Homo sapiens: one gene and its partners. The protein of the gene in region 1 purifies or fractionates together with the protein of each later gene. This does not show direct contact. Each region holds a gene or a part of one and is shown in the gene's direction. Other genes may lie near its edges.

What was found. The genes of interacting proteins can lie anywhere in the genome.
Region 2: the proteins of MTF1 (region 1) and DNAJC2 purify together in Homo sapiens (affinity purification with mass spectrometry, with the first as the bait; one large-scale study listed by BioGRID). This does not show direct contact.
Region 3: the proteins of MTF1 (region 1) and ZC3H15 purify together in Homo sapiens (affinity purification with mass spectrometry, with the first as the bait; one large-scale study listed by BioGRID). This does not show direct contact.
Region 4: the proteins of MTF1 (region 1) and PDCD11 purify together in Homo sapiens (affinity purification with mass spectrometry, with the first as the bait; one large-scale study listed by BioGRID). This does not show direct contact.

Annotation. Positions count from the first base shown.
Region 1 is NC_000001.11:37,856,793-37,860,915, reverse strand, and holds the start of MTF1 (metal regulatory transcription factor 1), read left to right. Parts: upstream 1-1,323; 5' UTR 1,324-1,385; exon of another isoform or gene 1,386-2,428; intron 2,429-3,206; 5' UTR 3,207-3,257; coding exon 3,258-3,665; intron 3,666-4,123. UniProt on the Homo sapiens protein: Zinc-dependent transcriptional regulator of cellular adaption to conditions of exposure to heavy metals. Binds to metal responsive elements (MRE) in promoters and activates the transcription of metallothionein genes like metallothionein-2/MT2A.
Region 2 is NC_000007.14:103,317,268-103,320,767, reverse strand, and holds part of DNAJC2 (dnaJ homolog subfamily C member 2), read left to right. Parts: intron 1-923; coding exon 924-1,012; intron 1,013-1,089; coding exon 1,090-1,159; intron 1,160-3,500. UniProt on the Homo sapiens protein: Acts both as a chaperone in the cytosol and as a chromatin regulator in the nucleus.
Region 3 is NC_000002.12:186,489,260-186,492,759, forward strand, and holds part of ZC3H15 (zinc finger CCCH domain-containing protein 15), read left to right. Parts: intron 1-3,500. UniProt on the Homo sapiens protein: Protects DRG1 from proteolytic degradation. Stimulates DRG1 GTPase activity likely by increasing the affinity for the potassium ions.
Region 4 is NC_000010.11:103,444,210-103,446,794, forward strand, and holds the end of PDCD11 (protein RRP5 homolog), read left to right. Parts: intron 1-307; coding exon 308-473; intron 474-1,168; coding exon 1,169-1,340; 3' UTR 1,341-2,085; downstream 2,086-2,585. UniProt on the Homo sapiens protein: Essential for the generation of mature 18S rRNA, specifically necessary for cleavages at sites A0, 1 and 2 of the 47S precursor. Directly interacts with U3 snoRNA. Involved in the biogenesis of rRNA.

The DNA of each region.
Region 1 (4,123 bases):
GAGTTTGAGGCTGCAGTGACCTATGACCACATCACTGTACGCCAGCCCGGGTGAGAGAGGGAGACCCCGTCTCTAAAAATAAAATGTAAAATCACTGAAAAAATGAGTGTTCGGTGAAACAAGTGGGATTTTCTGGGCCAGCAAGTCTTCCAAACTGTATATGATGCATCCTGTCTCCATGTGTAATATATTTTAATGATAAATGTATTTTTAACAGTGGCGGTTGTGTATGTTTTTATGTCTTAAGAGATGGCAGTTCGCTGCAGCTGGATTTTGTGGCTCAAGCCTTGGGGCCAAAGAGACATATTCCTGGCAGTCTGGTGGGTACCAGTCACTATTCACATACTTCCAGCAAGAAATGGTTATGGCACTGACCTGAACCCCTTGACCCCTGGTCTGGTCTTTGGAGTTGTCCCACTCTGAATATTCGAGAGAAGCAGCTTATGGTTAAAACAGGCAGTGGCAGCTGGGAGGATCTAACAGCTAGATCCTCCAGGCATTTGGAAAGGACAGGGGCATAACGAAGGCAGAATCGCTTCCTGGGTACGAATGCCCACTACTTCTGGGCACTGTGAAATGGGTTTAAGACGCGGGCCAGCAGGACAATGTGAACGGTGAAAGGAAGGGAGTGGCCGGTAGGTGGCGCTAACTGGCCCGGGCATGAGTCCCGCCGTAGCCGCGTCCTCTTGCAGGGGAAGAAAGTTGGGACCGCCAGCCTGGGCAAGCGCGTGAGAAGGGAGCTGGGGGTCCTAGGCAAGCGCGTGAGAAGGGGAAGAGGCGGCGGCGTCCTCTCCAGCTGGGCTTAGAATACTCTTAGTTCTGCCTTTGGGGTCTTGTCTTCCTTTCTGGGCCTCCTGCCTGTGTTAACTTTGATGGGTGCTGAAGGGAAGGCCGGGGTCCCGGCAGGAGAAACCCGGGAACGTCGCGGCCGTCCAGGCTCCCCTGGCGGGTTGGAGCCAGGGTTCTGACTGCCAACTGTGGTCCTTCCCGCTGCGGCTGTGGCTGCCAGGGCGAGGGCGGTCAGCGCAAACCTGGCTGAGGACATTTCGGATTCTTCCTTGGGGATTCGTTCCCTTCTCCTTGACTCCGGTGCCGCGAGGGCGACACCCTCCGGGCCCCGCGTGGCCACCCCGGGCGCTTCCCCACGCGGATGAACCCACCTCCTGGGCGCCTTCCCCTCGGTGCCCCGCTCGCCAATTGGAGGCTGCAGCTCAGCCCCCTGACAACCTGAGCCAACCAGAGGCGCCAGGGAGGGGCGGATCCTCTGTCCCCACCTTCCTCCGGAAAGAGGAAGCGGAAGTGACGTTAGGGGAAGGTGGGGGCAATCATGGTGCCGCTGGGGAGGGGAGAAGCTGCTGCTGCCGCCGTTGCCGGGAGCCGCGGAGGTAAAAGGCGAAACTAGACTCGGCCTGGGCTTGGGACTTACCGGGAGGCGCGGGACTTAGGCTCCCTCCTGAAGCATTTCCCAATAGAGACCTCAGTTTGGTCACCATAGGGACCCCACCCCTTCTCCGTTTCCATGGGGATGGGTATCCAGCCCCCCTTCCCTGTTTCCATGGAGACCCGGACCCTGCCCCTCTCCTCCTTGCTTGGAGACCCCCAGCTTGTCTTCGGATTTTTCTGTGTAGCCCTGTGCTGGGGGCTATCCCAGACAGGTTCCTTTTCCCAGCCTCCTCTCAAGGGGGCTCTGTTCGCACTCCTCGTTGGCTACCCTCAAACCTCCTGGTCTTGTTTGTTTCGGACAGTTGGTCTCCGCGTTGCCGCCGAGGGTGCCGGGGCAGCCCACTGGGGCCCTCGGTGCTCTTCTCTCTCTGCTCAGATGCAGCGAAATGTACATCTGTGGGGTTGCGTAAGCCAGAGCTAGGGGTCGGGCCGGTACCTCCCGGATCCAATCCTTTGGCCTGTCTCTGGTAACTGTCTAGCCATCCCACTAAGTAAAGGCTCACTTTCTAACCCAGAGCAGAAGAGAAAGATAAAGCGCAAAGCCAGACTGAAAACTAAAAGGGATGTGCTGATTATTTTAAAATTCTCTATTCTGCCTGCCAAACCCACATTTGTAGAGCCTGTGTTTGCAGATGAAGGAAGAATCACTATTCCAGAACATGAAAGCTTCAAATGTGGTATTTTTCTCAAGAGAATGTATCTTCCCAAGATAGTATATCTTCACGAGAGAGTAGGTAGCCATGTCTTTCAGTCATTTAGCTGACATTTCCTGAACTCTTATCATAGTATCAGTGTACTATGCTAGGAGCTGTAGAAACAAAAATAATAAGACTCAATTGATTCAGGGACGAGAGCCCACCACAGAACCATAACTTCTTGTTGACACCATATTGTTTTAGGACATAAATAGATACAGTGATCTTCGTTGTTTGTGCCTGATTGAGGAATAGCCCTTCCACCCAGAAGGTTGAAACATCTGTTCTAGGTAGGGGGGAAGGAATTCATACTTGTTCCTCTACTATTTACCAAACATTGTGCTTTACATATGTTGCCTCTTTTATTTCTTATAAAAACTTTGAGAGAACAGGAATTACTGGTCCCACCTTGCACGTAAGAAAAATGAGGCACAGAAAAGTTACCCATGTAGTAAAAGGCAAAGACAGGATTTGTAGGTAGATGACTCTGCCTCCAAAGCCTTGCTCCTTCTACCATAAACTGCATGAAACCATTTACTGCCTCGTGGTCTGATTTGGAGGATATTTGAATGGATGGAGTTTCCCTTAAGATTTGTAGCAACTCAGCCTTTCAGCAGCTGCTGTTCTGTTTGCTCTTTTGTCCCCTTTAAATATTTTGACCAAGTTTCAAATTGTTTGACAGGCGTATTCAGAAGGTCTTATGAACTTATTCAGTTTTTGAAAAGCATTGCTTTTCTTTCTTTTTCTTTTTTTTTTTTTTTTATTAGAGATGGGGGTCTCACTATGTTGACCAGGCTGATCTCAAACTCCTGGCCTCAAGCGATCCTCCCATCTTAGCCTCCCAAAGTGTTGGGATTACAGGTGTGAGCCACCACGCCCAGTCGGCATTGCTTTTCTTTAAAAATGACTTGATGGTTTTAAAGTTAAAATAAAAAAATTATTCCCAAGGATGGTTTTTCATTTGCTTTGGCTTGCTCTTTAAGTGAGAGGGAAAATGAGCCTTGTGGTTGCTGAGGAGGTCCGTCGGTCTTGTGGTATGACTCTAACTCTGGCTTTGTTCTGTTGCAGACAAGTCATTACGTTTTCATTTCTCACAACTGGGCTGAGCACAACTGAACCATGGGGGAACACAGTCCAGACAACAACATCATCTACTTTGAGGCAGAGGAAGATGAGCTGACCCCCGATGATAAAATGCTCAGGTTTGTGGATAAAAACGGACTGGTGCCTTCCTCATCTGGAACTGTTTATGATAGGACCACTGTTCTTATTGAGCAGGACCCTGGCACTTTGGAGGATGAAGATGACGACGGACAGTGCGGAGAACACTTGCCTTTTCTAGTAGGGGGTGAAGAGGGCTTTCACCTGATAGATCATGAAGCAATGTCCCAGGGTTATGTGCAGCACATTATCTCACCAGATCAGATTCATTTGACAATAAACCCTGGTTCCACACCCATGCCAAGAAATATTGAAGGTGCAACCCTCACTCTGCAGTCGGAATGTCCGGAAACAAAACGTAAAGAAGTAAGTAAAGCAGTCAGTGAGGGCCTAGTTTGGTTTTGGGGCAAGTCCTTACAAAATTCTTGGTGCAAATTTTAGCTGGGGAGTAAAGGAGTGCATGGGGTTAGGACTTAAGTAGTTTTGCTATCAACAACATATGCCTCAGGTTTTGTTGTGATTGCTTCTGGAACTTTTGGTTTGTATAGCCACATTGAAATTTGGGAATATCAAATTGTAATTTCTCGAATTTCCTTCCCCAAATCATAAATAAAACAGAAATTTCACTTAAGTAGACCCATGTTTCTGGTGCTAAAATAACTATTTAGCTTATCTACAGGGAAATAACTGGAGTTTGCTTATTTGATGAAGAAATAACTATATTTGGCTTATCTCCTGGTTGTGTTTAAATGATTTGTTTTAGAGATGAGTATCTGCTGGAATATGTTTTATTATCTTAGTGAATGTTTAATGAACTTTTATTT
Region 2 (3,500 bases), on another chromosome or scaffold:
TATATGTGTATATATATATATTTTGTGACAGAGTCTTGCTCTGTCGCCCAGGCTGGAGTACAGTGGCGCAATCTCCGCTCACTGCAAGCTCCGCCTCCTGGGTTCACGCCATGCTCCTGCCTCAGCCTCCCGAGTAGCTGGGACCACGCCCGGCTAATTTTTTGGATTTTTAGTAGAGACGGGGTTTCACTGTGTTAGCCAGGATGGTCTCGATCTCCTGACCTCACGATCCGCCTGCCTCGGCCTCCCAAAGTGCTGGGACAGTTTTAGAATATTAACTTGTTTTTTGGTTTGATAATGGTAAGATGATTATGTTTAGAAAAAAACTATCAGGGTTGAAAACTGAAATATGTACACCTGAAATTTAGAAAAAGTTAAAAACAGCCGGGCGCGGTGGCTCACACCTGTAACCAGCACTTTGGGAGGCTGAGGCGGGTGGATCACAAGGTCAGGAGTTCAAGACCAGCCTGGCCAAAATGGTGAAACCCCGTCTCTACTAAATATAGAAAAAATTAGCCAGGTGTGGTGGCAGGCGCCTGTAATTCCAGCTACTCAGGAGACTGAGGCAGAAGAATAGCTTGAACCCGGGAGGTGGAGGTTGCAGTGAGCCGATTTCGTGCCACTGGACTCCAGCCTGGGCGACAGTGAGACTCCGTCTCAAAGAAAAGAAAAAGTTAAAAACATTTACACTGAGATAAAATTATACCTGTTCAGTTGTCATTGTCTGTTTTTTTGAGATGGAGTCTTGCTCTGTTGTCCAGGCTGGAGTGCAGTGGCGTGATCTCAGTTTGCTGCAATTTCCGCCTCCAGGTTCAAGCGATTCTCCTGCCTCAGCCTCCCGAGTAGCTGGGATTACAGCTTTGTAATTATGTTGATGGATGTATTTTTGAGTGTAGATACTATTTTTGTGTTTGTGCTTTTAGACCTGGAATCATTTTTCTGATAATGAGGCAGAGCGGGTTAAAATGATGGAAGAAGTGGAAAAACTTTGTGATCGGCTTGAACTGGCAAGGTATACCTATGGAACTGCTATTGAAGTCTTCACTTGAGCTTAGGATAAAGTTTCATTTCTTCTTTTTTTTTCTTTAGCTTACAGTGCTTGAATGAAACACTCACATCATGCACAAAAGAAGTAGGAAAGGCTGCTTTGGAAAAACAGGTAATAGAGGAACACATCACTCCTACCTATATGTAGCATTTAATTCTGCTTTGACCTGTTTCTTCACCTAATATATAAGTCACCAAGTGCAGGGAGTATCTGATTTCTCTTTATGTTTCCCACTGTTTTGTTGTTGTTGTTTTATGTGTTCGGTTTTTTGGTTTTTTGTTTTGAGACAGAGTCTTGCTCTGTTGCCCAGGCTGGAGTGCAGTGGCACGATCTTGGCTCACTACAACCTCCGCCTCCCGGGTTCAAGTGATTCTCCTGCCTCAGCCTCCTGAGTAACTGGGATTATAGGCGCACAACACCACACCTGGCTAATTTTTGTATTTTTGGTAGAGACAGGGTTTCACCATGTTGGTCAGGCTGGTCTTGAATTCTTGACCTCATGATCTGCCCATGTAGGCTTCTCAAAGTGCTGGGATTATAGGTGTGAACCACCACGCCCAGCCTGTTTTTGTTTTTGTTTTTGAGATGGAGTCTCTCTCTGTCACCCAGGCTGGAGTGCGGGTGGGATTACAGGTGTGTGCCACCATGCCCGGCTGATTTTTGTATTTTTACTAGAGACAGGGTTTCGCTGTGTTGGCCAGGCTGGTCTCAAACTCCTTACCTCAAGTGATCCGTCCGCATTGGCCTCCCAAAGGATTATAGGCATGAGCCACCATGCCCAGTCTGCATTTTGTTTATGTAGTAAGGTGCTGTTGTTGATTTAAGTTGGATTAGATGTTTATGGTTTTTACCATACTTAGTGTTTGATTTGTGGTATCTATCACAAGCATAGCTTTTGCAAAATCATATTAGAAAAAAATAATTGTTTTGATTATTCCTTGAGTATTTTCATAGGGTAATAACAGTTAGAACCAAAAGAGATCTTTGTTCTGTCTAGTCTATACCTTTTATTTTACAGATAAGAAAACAGGCCCAGAAATTCAATTCAATTCAACAAGTATTAGTACCTACTATATATAGCACTATGCCTAGGTTCTTTTGGAGAAATGCCTAATGCTGTTGCACCACAAAGGACATGCTGAGAAGAACCTGAGAAGAACCTTAAGGACCAAAAGATGGAGAGCCCATAGTAAATGAGGTGTAGGATAGGAAGGGCCACAAGTTTTAGTGACCAGGGAAGGCTCAGTGTAGTTTGAACCAGCCTGAAAGGAAGGACAGAGTTAAAATGAAGGTCAGAAGAATACCACAAACTATAAAATAGAAGTAGAAGTATAAAGTATGGTTCAGCCTGGGCAACATAAACAAAATCTCTACCGAAAATACAAAAATTAACTGGCATGGTGTCGTGTACCTGTAGTCCCAACTTCTCAGGAGGCTGAGGTTAGAGGATTACCTGAGCCTGGGAGGTCACAGCTGCAGTGAGCTATGATCATGTCGGTGCACTCCAACCTGGGCAACAGAGCGAGACTTTGTCTCAAAAAAAACAGACAAAAAAAAAATGTTATGGGGAAATGGAGTGGGAAACAAAATCAGTTAGGAAAAGCAGAACCAATGATCAGGTTTTTAATACCTTGTTGACTAGTTTCCATTACTGCAAATCTTTGATTAACAGAAGGTTCAACATTGTACTACTAATCTGACGTTTGTGGATAAGGTGCATCAGATAGATGTAACTAGTTACAAGAATCTTATTTATTTAAGAATCTGCACTATGAGCGTGGTGGCTCATGCCTATAATCCGAGCACTTTGGGAGGCCAAGGCAGACAGATCCCCTGAGGTCAGGAGTTTGAGACTAGCCTGGCCAACATGATGAAACCCCATCTCTGCTAAAAATACAAAAATTAGCTGGGCATGGTGGCAGGCATCTGTAATCCCAGCTACTTGGGAGGCTGAGGCAGGAGAATCACTTCAACCTAGGAGGCGGAGGTTGCAGTAAGCAGAAATCACACCACTGCACTCCAGCCTGGGCGACAGAGTGAGACTCTGCCTCAAAAGTAAGAAAGAAAGAAAAAGAACCTGCACTATGAATGTGATGATGGGAATCAAAAAAATTTTTCAAGGTTAGCATTATTGGGACTTTACTGGTTCTAAGGGATTGAAGGGGAGAAATGAGCCAAAGCTGACTCTTAAGATAGCAGCTGACAGAAGCAACAAGGGCAAATAAAGGTTCTTTTTTTACTTGTGCATGTTTGAAGGTAGTCTAGAAGGAACAATGTAAATGGTAGAGCTTCAAAATAAAAGAGGCCATTTTGCTATGCCTTCACCTTTTGGTAGAGAATAAATGAGATTGTCTGCAGAAAGGGTGAATATGAGTTTGAAGAGAGGTTTGAAATGGCCTTGTGGATGAATAACTCAGTGACCCACAGACTTGTCAATTAGTGTCCAAGGCTA
Region 3 (3,500 bases), on another chromosome or scaffold:
TGAATTGTAGTGTTAAGTTACAGCATTTGTGAAATTAGATTTATAGAGACTATTCTGTTATTCAGCCTGGTTAGGAAATGATATAGTCTGCTTCATTATATAGGCAACTTTTTTTTTAAACTTCCCTAAAAGCCTAGCACGTCTCAGTGACTATTCCAAGAAGATAATTGATCTCTGTGACTGTTATAATTTTGGAGGGGGAAATACTACTTTTTTATAGTCTATTTTGACATATAAAGACTGATACTTATTTCAGAATCTGGTTAACTTTGGGAGGTTTTATAGCTGTATGACCTGAAATTCTAAATTGCTCAAAATTAATAGTTAACTAAAACATGTATTTTTAAGCAGCACGTTTCAATAGACTTGAAAATAATGGTTGTCCTACCTACCTCTTTCCTCTTCTGTACCTGTTCTGCTGCCACCTCTATGGACCTTCACTGTGGAAAAATCAACATGCAGGTTTTGGGAACTCTAAGGAAGTAAAAGAGACATCAGATAGCATAAATTAATGAAAGGAACACTAGCTTTGGAGTCAGAGACCTGGGTTTGAGTCCCATGTTTCAAATTACTAGCTCTATAGTTTTAGACAAGTTACAAAATCTAGCTGGAATGCAATTCTCATCTGCAAAATGCAGCTAGTTCCCGTGAGTTAAATGAGATAATACATGTAAAGTGCCTGCCATATGGTGTATATATTCAGTAAATGGCAGCTATTGTTATTGCCTATTTTGATAGTGTATTATAAATAAAAACTAGGGGACATCAGACTGATCTGCACAGTCTATACAGTGCTTAGTTCCTGCCCATTTTTTAATATTGCCTCCATTTTTTAATATTGCCTCCATTTTTTTTATTTGCCTCTTCAAATGCCCCAAAACTTTATGAATTCATTTGTATTAATACTTTCCGAAATGAATATGTCAAACAGGATTATGGTTCTGTTAGAAATTAACACATTAGTCTGAAATGGCATATACCATTTGCTTTCTTACAACTAAAATTTAGTGACAAATGGAGTCAGTATTGAGCAATAGAAAGTTTGAATATGGAAAGAAGGAAATAATCTTGGACTTAGGGCAAGCAAATAAAAGATACCCAGCTAAGAACTTGTATCAGCAAGGAAATAGTAATAGGGACCTATAGAGACAGGATCCAGGTGTCGTGAAAGATGGAGCAAGAGAAATTGGTTGCCAGTGTAGAACAGCTACCAATAGCCAAAATCAAATGTTGATTACTTGAAGCTGGATTAACCAGTTGCATAATATATATTGCATGGATGGACAACAAGAATACATTAGTGCATTTGGGAGAAAACTAATGAGGGAAAACCGTGACAGCTTCTGCCTACCCGAATGTCCCAAGAGGGTAGACTCCATTATCTTGGAGCACTATTCAGTGTTGACCTGCCCTTCCGCTGCTTCCCTTTTTCCAAACATCTTATTTAAGCAGTGGAGGCTGGCCCGTAAAAGGAATGGGATTACGTACGGATGGGAGGGAAGTTTTAAGTGAAGCCTGGAATTTACTGAGTGTTAAGGCTCTTGGAGCCTCAGGAAGTCATCCTTTTCTTTCGAGACTCCTCTGTATTCATGTCCCAAGTTGTCTTCTGAAACACACATAAACACGCAGTTCCTTTACTATCATGTTAACTTTTGGGACCTTATTAATCCAATGAGGACCATTATTCTCCTAGTTTTATTTTAACTGTGGTTTGGGGTTGACTGTAACCTCCTTTTTTTCTACCTTGTAATTCAGGTTAATCTTTAGGTAGGGCTCTGTCCTAAACTCAGGAAGAAGCCTTTTTGAACTTCTCCAAATTGCAAATCATTCTGTTTTCAAGAGGTGCTATTGGTATCTCAGATCTGCAGTGTGATATTTAGAAAGGTTATTGCGCACCAACCAGCCCAATAACTTAATGAGGTTTCTCTGGGAAGTAGTTTATTAAAAACTGTAGAAGGAATTTGCTTGGAGTCAAATATACCTAGGTTCAAATATCATCTGTCACTTAATAGTTAACATTTACTGGCCCAGACAAGGTTCTCAGTGTTTTGGGGAGAAGGAGAGAAGAGAGACAAGCCAACTACAAGTGATAAATATACTAGCTCCTTTGATTCTCTCAGTGGGATATGTATTATTACCCTTTTTGCAGTTTTGAAAACAGGCATAGATATTAAATAACTTGCCCAAGTTTACTAACCTGGCAAGTAACTGTGCCAGGGATTCTAACACAGGAAGTCTGCCTCTAGAGTCCTTGCTGTCCACCACTGTCTCTCTGAGGTAAATCTTTTAACTTTCACAACAACCCTAAGTGAGACTCACTTTACAAATAAGAAACTGTGGCAAAGAGGGTAATTTACCCAGCTCTGTTTGGGATTAAAATTTGGGCAGTCTGGCTCCAGAGTTTATGCTTCTAAATGCTTGCACTATACAGCCAGCCCCTTATTAATGACTTAACTTCAAATGAATTTATCATTTCTGAGTTTCTGTGTATCATAGAATTGTTGAGAGGATTCAATAAAGTATATATTCAGGGGTTATGTTTATGTTTAGTGAATACTAGATAAATAAGTGTCCCCTTTCTCTGTGGAAAAATGTTAATTTCTGAGCTCTAACTTAGAGGTGAACACAACTCACTTATTATCTCTTTAAACTGGTTATTTATGTGCCAGAGCAGTGTAATGAAACCTGATTTTTTTTTTCTTCTTCTGGGATCGGGAGTTTATACACCTTTACCAGAAACTGCCATTGTGAGTGCTTTCTTTTCTTACTGGCCAGGTCCCCTTAGGGGACATTTTTCTTTCCTAAGTCTATCTGGCAGTATCTGCTTTGCTATTTGGCCTTATTTATTCATTGTTTCTTCTCTGTAGTTACAGATGGAGCATGGGTTGAACCGCAGTTTATTTTCTCTGGCAGAGCACCTGTAGATGCTGTTTAATCCTGATCATATTTTTTTCTAGAGCCTCCTCTCCCTCCCGTGAGAGCTCACTTTTTGTAAAGGAAAAGTATGGCATTTTATACTTAGTTGCTGCACTGTGTTCATCTGTATGTATCACATTATGTTGACCATCTTTCTTCAAATTGAATTGAGTGTTAAACTTTCTTTATAGAAACAAGGGAAGCCATCCGTAAAAGGCTCAGTGCAGAAACATCCAGCTTGTTTGTGCTTCTTACCTTTTTTCATACACATAGGCTGTAGAAAATTCATGTAGAATTTTGTATAATACCATGTTGGGATGTTAAATCATGAAACAAGCATTTAAGTAGAGGAAAGCAAAGTTTTGGTATATGGATATAGATGTCATGAATAAAGAGATATTTCCCAATGAGAGATAACCATTTAGAAGCAAAACCCTCTGTACTTTTTTGTCTTAAGACTATTGAAAGATCTTTTACTGATTTTGAGGTTGCTGTAAACATTATGTCATGTTGTATGTTTTTAAATACTAATTGTTTCAGTACTATTGTTTTCTTTTTCTAGCTTGTCCACGTGGTGGTATTTT
Region 4 (2,585 bases), on another chromosome or scaffold:
CATAACAGTGCATGTTAAATTTCAAATGTCAGGCTCCAAAAGATGGAGGAACAAAACGCAGTTAGTACTAGTTCTGTTGCCCCTGGGATCCCCCACCTCTTCTGTGCCCAGAGAGTGGTGTGTCTGCAGTGCCCATCTGTGTATTTGGCCCCAAACCCACCCCTTTTGGGTCTTTGTCCCTCTTGTCACAACCTGAGTCTTGGGACCCAAGAGCAGGGAGTCAGGTGCACGCTGACCCTGCGGAACACTGTGTTGTGGTGAGGGGGCTGTCTGCTTGTTGGGTCTCTGAGCAGTCCTCTCCCTGCAGATGTGGATGTCATTGCCAAGTTTGCCCAGCTTGAGTTTCAGCTGGGGGATGCAGAGCGGGCCAAAGCCATTTTTGAGAACACGCTGAGCACCTACCCAAAGCGCACAGATGTCTGGTCGGTCTATATCGACATGACCATCAAGCACGGCAGCCAGAAGGACGTCCGGTGAGTGGGGCAGCTGGCCAAGGCCGAGTTCCTCAGGAGAGGGCGTGGTAGGCACTGGTCCCACAGCAGCTCTCAGCATCCCAGTTCTCTTACTTGATCTAGAAAACCAGCTAGATGTGATGCCCCAGGCCCAGTGACATTCACTTCAACTCCTCTTTCTGCCTCAAAGGCCAGCATCTGGTCTGTGTCTGAAACCATTGGTAGGAGGTAGCCTTGTCAAGAGACTCGAGTTTCTCTCATAATTAACACTGTTCCTGACTCTCATTGTAGACTACTTTCACAGGCATTCTCTTGCTTTTGACCCCAGCGTCTCCACAAGACAGGGAGGGTTTAGAGATGAGTAGACTGAGGTCCAAAAAGAACAGGTGCCTCACCCAAGCCCTTCACTATGTATGTTTCTCACTGTTGTGTCCCCCATCCCAGTAGCTTTGTCTTGATCACTGTGTGGCTTTAGGCAGGGAAGTCCCTTACCATCTCTGGGTGTCCATCTGCTCATCTGGAAGATGAGGGTGGTAGTGCCTCTCCCCAAGGCATCATGGGAGTTCATCATGGATTAATAAAGATAATGGTAGAAGTGGGAGTCCTGGATGGGAGAGGGTCCTGGTTCCAGGGCTGAGAGCAAGTGGGTGAGTGCTAGGCAGGAAGCACGTGACCTGGGACTGACAGGCAAATGCCACTCTGCTTTTCCTCAACAGGGACATCTTTGAGCGGGTCATTCATCTGAGCTTGGCCCCCAAGAGAATGAAGTTCTTCTTCAAGCGCTACCTGGACTACGAGAAGCAGCATGGCACTGAGAAGGATGTGCAGGCAGTCAAGGCCAAGGCCCTGGAGTATGTGGAGGCCAAGAGCTCAGTGCTAGAGGACTAGTGGCAGGCTGGCTCTGTGGGACACTGTCAACAATGGGCCAGCCCGGCCCCGCCTCGAGTGCCTGGGCACTCGGAAAACTGTTACCTCAGGACTCTATTTAAATGCTGCTTTTTCTGCAGCACGCTTGGGGAAATCCTGTCAGGATGAAAAGGAAGTTGAGATTTTTTAAATCCCTCTTCGCTTGCTTTATTTTCAGTACCAACTTGTTATCTTTTTCCTTATCTGAGGCTACCTGGGGATTGTGGGCAGCAGGCCCCTGGACTCCCAGAAATGCTGAGGGTCCCTCTTCCAGGGGAGTTCCCTGGGGAGCAAGAGTAGAGGGGCTATTCCCGAGGGTCCTGTGGTCAGGGTCCTGCTTTGTCCCTGGCAGGCTGTCAGTCCAGCTGGAGGGGGTCAGTAGGCTCCAGGGAGTGGGCCCTCCCCTCCGATCTTGGAGTCTCTGGGTGTTCCTTCAGCCTCAGCCTCACTGGTACCTTCTGCCCTTTAGGGGAGGCTATGAGTCTGGGACAGGAGGACAAATTCAGAGCCCAGAGGGGGAAATGGAGAAACCTGGGCTGCTGAGGAAAGCCACGGGTGTTGGCGTGAACTGATGATGTCTCATCCCACGCCCACTATGGCCACATTACCTAACCTCTCCATATCTGGGCTATTCAAGGTCTTGGAGGCCAGCACAGACCCAGCTAGTTGTTGAAGCCAGTTCTTTTTTGTCTTGGTCATGAGGGAATTAAACGTTTTCTCTGGCAGAGCTTTAAGTGTCCTGAGAGCTTTTCCATGGGAAATGACTGAGTCATATGCCAGGAAGCCGGACAGGGCCAAGGGAGAGCATCCAAAGGTTCTAGAGGTGGGGCGGGTGGCGGGCAGGGATGGGAGGAAGGAGAAGCTGGGGCTGGCCTGCTTCTTGGACATGAGCACTAGGTTACGAGAGCTAGTTCTGGCCTGCCCACTGAGCGCAGAATCTTCTGACTCGTGAAATTTCAGACTGTTTCCTTCTGAGAAAGGCCAGGCTTCATCTCTTCCCCACACCAAATCAGATAATAGAACCCAACTGCAAAGAGATCATCAGCCCCAGAGCCTTCCCCTGTGTTGAACCCCTGGTACTCACTGCACCCTCCCTGCCACCCCTGTGGGCCATTTTAGTCCTGTCCCCTTCCCTAACACGGCATAGGATTTGGGCCTGGCCCTATGACCACCAGCCTGCTGTGGCATGCCCATTCAATCACACAGACACCAGGCTAGTCCTTTTAG